Linked DNA regions of Homo sapiens: region 2 is linked to region 1. Evidence: fine-mapped expression QTL. A gene starts in region 1. The other region holds a variant in brackets. All regions are shown on one strand. Distances are from middle to middle.

The links. PIP is the estimated chance that this variant, and not a neighbour inherited with it, causes the effect. A credible set is the group of variants that fine-mapping cannot tell apart.
Region 2: its variant is the best candidate, but not a certain one, in a credible set for the expression of CCDC8 in aorta (GTEx, PIP 0.63).

Annotation. Positions count from the first base shown.
Region 1 is chr19:46,412,063-46,414,969 of GRCh38, forward strand. It overlaps CCDC8 (coiled-coil domain containing 8 subunit of 3M complex), which reads right to left and starts at 1,502. Exons shown (of 1, transcript NM_032040.5): 1 at 1-1,502. The coding sequence starts at 748. RefSeq lists enhancers at 1-709, 2,376-2,907.
Region 2 is chr19:46,466,786-46,469,692 of GRCh38, forward strand. PNMA8A (PNMA family member 8A) reads right to left here. Exons shown (of 3, transcript NM_018215.4): 3 at 1-1,792. The coding sequence ends at 1,776. Among named protein-coding and RNA genes, the nearest start is that of PNMA8A, 3.3 kb to the right of the region's middle. The variant G/A (reference allele first, on the strand shown) is at 1,321.

The sequences.
Region 1 (2,907 bases):
CCAAGCGATCCCCCGGGCTGGTGCCCTCTGGCGCCGATGATACCCCTGCGCTCTCCACTGCGGTGGAGGCCAGCCGGGCCTCGCCCACCCCGGGGCCCGCCCTCGGCGCCCAACCCTTCACCCTCCGCTTCAGCTTCCCCCAGGACACCTGGCTGACATACTCCCGCCACCTGTCCGCTTTGGACAGCTGAGGCCCCAGGTTGTCCTCAAACATGGGCACTGGCAGGTTGACGCGGCGGCGGGCAGGCGGCGCGCTGGGCTGCTTCTCCTGTCGCCGGAGGAAGGCCTCGACCAGTTCCTCATCATCCTCACTCTCCAGGTCGCTTCCCAGGAACTTGCTGCCCAGGTAGCTGACGGGCATTTTGCGCACCTTCTTGCCCCGCCGCGGGCCCTGGCGGCTCTTGTCTCTGGAGGTCTCGAAGTCGCTGAACTCGCTGTCGCTGGCGTTGCTGCTGTCGTACGTGCCCACGACCAGCCGGGGCGGAGGAGTCACCATCTGCTGCACTCTCCTCCTCACTCGGGGCTCCTTGGGCTTTTTGGGGGGCTGGGGCGGGTGCGGGGTGCTCTTCTCCATGATGCGGGCCACGTCCTCCAGGGTGCGGCCCTCTTCTTCCAGGAACTGGGTCAGCCGCTCCCGAAATTCTGCTTCCTTGGTGGCGGGCTTAGAGATGACTCTCCAGACGCCCCCAGCCAGCCTGACCTCCCGGGGGATGAGCAAATAGTCGACGTCCTCCCCGATCTGCAGCATCCCCACCGTGGAGTCCTCCTCCTTGCGGAACACCTTGCCGATCTTCTTAAATGTCCCCACGGGCTTTAGGGCTTCCACGAGGACGTCCAAATCCACATCTTTGCAGACATCGGGGACGCTCCAAAGAATGAGGCAGTCGGGGGACGGCAGGAAGCCCCAGGGGAACCAGCCCCCCACGTGGCTTTTCTCGAGAGTCTTTAAGATCTCCAGGGTGATATCTGGGGTGAGGGGGCAATGAGCCCCAACAAACTACTGTAGCCCTTAGTCTTGAGGGAGGGACTGGATGGGGGGAGTTCCAGCAACGCTGACCGGAGAGTCTCACCTCCCTAGCCAGGGACGAGCCAAACGCCTCCAATCTCTTCGCCTGCAACAAGTACAGTCTTGACCAAGTCCGGCTCCCCCACCAAGGACTTGGGGGAATCAATTTCCAGGATGCCTACGTGAGCCGGGGGCGAGGTCAGTCCCAAGGCTCAAGGCCCACTCCAAGCTGGAAACGTGGTGTCCCAGCTCCAAGTTGGGGCGCGCGGGCTGCCAGCGACTCTTCCTGCCCCAGGCCCCAGGGACGCGGCTGGAACTTGGGACAGGACTTCGCAGACAAAGACGGTCCAGTCGAAGCTATTCAATATGGCCGAGGCGCTGGGAGGCCCCAGCCCGGGCCTCCAGTAGGGTCCCCCGCCCCCAGGCAGGCCGCCACCCAGCTCCAGGCTGACCTTGACGCGCCGCAGCCTGCCAGCCCGCGCGCTTAGAGCTCTGCACCGTGGAGCGCGCGGGCAGGAAGTTCCTCCTCGCCCTCCGCCAGAATGAGGCCCACCTTCCCCCGTCTCATCTTACACTCCCAGACTCTGGAAGACTGACAGGGGGGCTGTCCACTCCCTTCGGGGCGGCCTCCTTCCCCTCCCCCACAGGGGTGTGGCCGCGCCCCGGGCCTAGCTGGGCCCATTGCTTCCCAGCGAAGCGGCAGTGGCCCACGTCAGCACCTTTCCTGAAAGGCAGCGGTTCCCAAACCTGCCATCCGAAATGTGCAAGTTTCCAGCCAAGTCCGGGAGGTGGGTGTGCTAGTGGATTCTACTTTTTGAGAGCCACTGGCACCACAGATTAGCATTTTAAATTCACGCGACTATCGGTACCCGTACACCTATATGCGTGGGTAGAGAAATGGGTACCTGACTGCAACAGTCCCACTGTGGCGCTTGGCAGGTCAGGGCTCAATACATATTTTTGAGGGGATGAATAAACCCAAATGTTCATGGCCAGGCGCGGTGGCTCATGCCTGTAATGCCAGCACTTTGGGAGGCCCAGGTGGGTGGAACACTTGAGGCCAGGAGTTCGAGACCAGCCTGCCCAACATGGTGAAACCCTCGTCTCTACCCCGGGTGTGGTGGTGCGCGTGCGTAGTCCCAAGCTACGCGAGAGGCTGAGGCAGGAGAATGGCGTGAACCTGGGAGGTGGAGGTTGCAGAGATCGCGCCACTGCACTCCGGCCTGCGCAACAGAGGGAGACTGTCTCAAAAAAACAAAAGTGCAAAAAAACCCCTACAAATAAACAACAACAAAAAACCCTAAAAGTTCACGAGTAGAGACTGCCTCTATTTTATGGTAGTATCTTACAGTGAAATATTTTGCAACTTCGAAAAAAGAATGAGATGGCTAAGGATAGGCACGGTTTATGAGGCGCTTCCTATGTAGTAGGCACCATTCCCAGTGCTTTCTATGAATGAACTCAGGAAATCCTTGCTATAACAGGAGACTGGTAGCATGAGTACAATTCCCATTAGACAGCTGAGGAAACTGAGGCCCAAGGACATAAAACCACACTCTCAAGGTCACAGCCATGGGGAGTGGTTGAGTTTGGATTTGAATCCAGAATAGTCTGCCTTTTGTGTCGACCAAAGAGTCAAGATGGCCAGGCGCGGTGGCTCACGCCTGTAATCCCAGCCCTTTGGGAGGCTGAGGCGGGCAGATCACGAGGTCAGGAGATCAAGACAAGACCATCCTGGCTAACGCGGTGAAACCCTGTCTCTACTAAAAATGCAAAAAAATTAGCCGCGCGTGGTGGTACGTGCCTGTAGTCCCAGCTACTCGGGAGGCTGAGGCAGAAGAATCTCTTGAACCCGGGAGGCGGAGGTTGCAGTGAGCCGCGATCGCACCACTGCACTCCAG
Region 2 (2,907 bases), 55 kb after region 1:
AGAAATTTGTTTTAAAGTTGAATCACTGAGAACATCTAACAACTGTTCACATTCTTTATCACAAAAACTGAAGTCGGAAAAGACGCCCTGAAAACTTGCAAGGGCTAATACTCTATGATAGAATATTACTACTGTTCACCATGTTAATACATTTACTTACTACCATACACCTGAACAGTCACGGCAGAACAAGAGCATGTGAATGACGAAAGGAAACTTGCTTTCAGGGTGTCAGATTATAGAACATGCACAGGAATTTCTTCCACTTCTAACCTCGCTCATCAGTCACATTTACAAGAAACTCAATTTTAAGCAAAGAGATGCCTGAAATAACTAAGACGTGTACAAAAACAAGTTAACCTATGAACACAAGGTAATATTCTGATAGTCTTCGATGTGACTTCCAACATATCTGAGTAGTCACTTTTCAGTTTTTTAAACACGTGAGAAAAATAGATTTGGATTACATCTTTGTGGACGGCTACGATACAGTTTGGAAACCATTATCTCAGGGACCCTGCTCTCTCCTCTACACATGCGCACGCAAACACACACACACACACACACAATGACACATGGTGGTCTGGTCTAATATAGTGTGTCTGAATTCAGAGGGCAGACATTAACAGCCAAGTTTTGTTTTTTTGAGAGAGAGTCTCACTCTGCTGCCCAGGCTGGAGTGCCGTGGCACAATCTCGGCTCATTGCAACCTCTGCCTCCTGGATTCAAGCAATTCATCTGCCTCAGCCTCCTGAGTAGCTGGGATTACAGGCGCGCGCCACCACGCCCAGCTAATTTTTGTAGAGATGGGGTTTCACCATGTTGGTCAAGCTGGTCTTAAACGCCTGACCTCGTGATCGACCTGCCTCAGCCTCCCAAAGTGCTGGGATTACAGGCGTGAGCCACCGTGCCCGGCCAACAGCCAAGTTTTAAAAGATTTTTTTCCCCTCTTACTATAATGTGAGTAGTGACCTTCTGCTGCAAAGATGGTGACAGTTTGGTGCAAAGATGGTGACAGTTGGGTAGATGGATGGAATTAGAGCTGGGGACCTAGGAATGCCTGCGTCCTTCCCTATAATCACCCCCCTTCCCCACAGGATTCCTGAGAGGGCTCATCCCAAATGGGAATCAAAGTGCCATTTTTACTAACAGACTCTAAAACTCAAAGACTTTGAGGTCTAGGCAGACATTCTTTTTCCCTAAAACTAACTCTTGGGACCTCCTGGCTAGATAACTGGAGGATGGAAGCTGGAGACTGAAGGAGCAATAAAACCAGGTTTGCAGCGAAGGTCCTGGCTTAACTTACCCCGCTGGTTACAC[G/A]AGAGGAAGGCGGGAGGAAGAATATGGCAGGGCCACCCAGCTCTTCCAAATGCCAGGGCCTGCAGAGGTCGCTGACCATTCCGAGGAGGGAGCAAGGCGTGGGGGAGAAAAGCTGAACATGGATGAGTGTAACAGTGACCCTGCTCATGCATAAAGGGGAATGAATGTTCTAGAATTTTCCCAATCCTCTTACCAACTCTCCTGCCTCCGAAGAGAAGGTGAGTAGAGAAGGCGGTGAAACGGCAGGCCTGGTAGAGAAAAGGGCATAGAGATCCACCTCCCTTCCCCAACTCCCTCCCACCCAAGACCTCACCTATCGTTTACCTCAGGGCCAGATCTCTATCAACAGGGGCCCTAAGAGAGTCCAAAGTCTTATTCAGTGACAAGAGAGAACTTGGTTGACTTGGTACTTCTTCCTTGTTCTTTCAACTCCTCAGTATGGGTGGTCCCCCAGATCAAACCTTTCTGGATTCTGCAAATAAATGAGAGAACAGATCAAGAAGGGAAGCAGAGAGGTGTCATTAGGAAATGCATTACTTCCAAGAAATTTCTGGGTCCCTGAACATTTCTATTCCCCAGCCAGGTCTCTAGAAAACTTCACCCTTAAAGCCACATACCCTGCAAACACCATAACTCCAAAGTATTAATATTTTTTTTGGGGGGAGGGGGGAACAGGGTTTCACTCTATCGCCCAGGCTGGAGTGCAGCAGTGTGATCTTGGCTCCCTGCAACCTCCACCTCCCAGGTTCAGGGAGGGTAAGAGCCCAGACCGCCCTTCCAGGAGCCCCTGAAGGCCGATGCTGGAGACATCTGGTGGGCAGATGTCTGGAGGCCAATCCCAGGCCTTGGCCTCCCCAGTAGCTGGGATTACAGGCACAAACCACCATGCCCAGCTAATTTTTGTATTTTTAGTAGAGATGGGGTTTCACCATGTTGGCCAGGCTGGTCTCGAACTCCTGACCTCAGGTGATCTGTCTGCCTTGGCCTCCCAAATCATTAAATTCTTTTTTTTTTTTTTGGAGACAAGAGTCTCACTCTCGTCACCCAGGCTGGAGGGCAGTGGCACAATCTAGGCTCACTGCAACCTCCACCTCCCGGGTTCAAGAGATTCTCCTGCCTCAGCCTCCCGAGTAGCTGGGATTACAGGTATGTGGCACCACACCCGGCTAATTTTTTGTATTTTTAGTAGAGACGGGGTTTCACCATGTTGGCCAGGCTGGTCTTGAACTCCTGACCTCAGGCGATCTGCCCACCTTGGCTTCCCAAAGTGCTGGGATTACAGGCATGAGCCACCAAGCCTGGGCCCAAACCATTAAATTCTCATCAAGGAAGATGGGTCAGATGGAGTGGCAAATGACCACAGTGACACTCATTGTGGGTTTCCTCTGCCACCTCCTGCCCACCAGATGTCTCCAGCATCGGCCTTCAGGGGCTCCTGGAAGGGCGGTCTGGGCTCTTACCCTCCTCAACTGGTGTGTCATCCACCTCCTGCCATGCACCAGGGTCCTCCTCATCACCCGCTTGACCCACCACCTCCTCGGGCTCCTCTGCCCCACCTGCCACTCCTGCTCCTCCTGCCTCATCCAC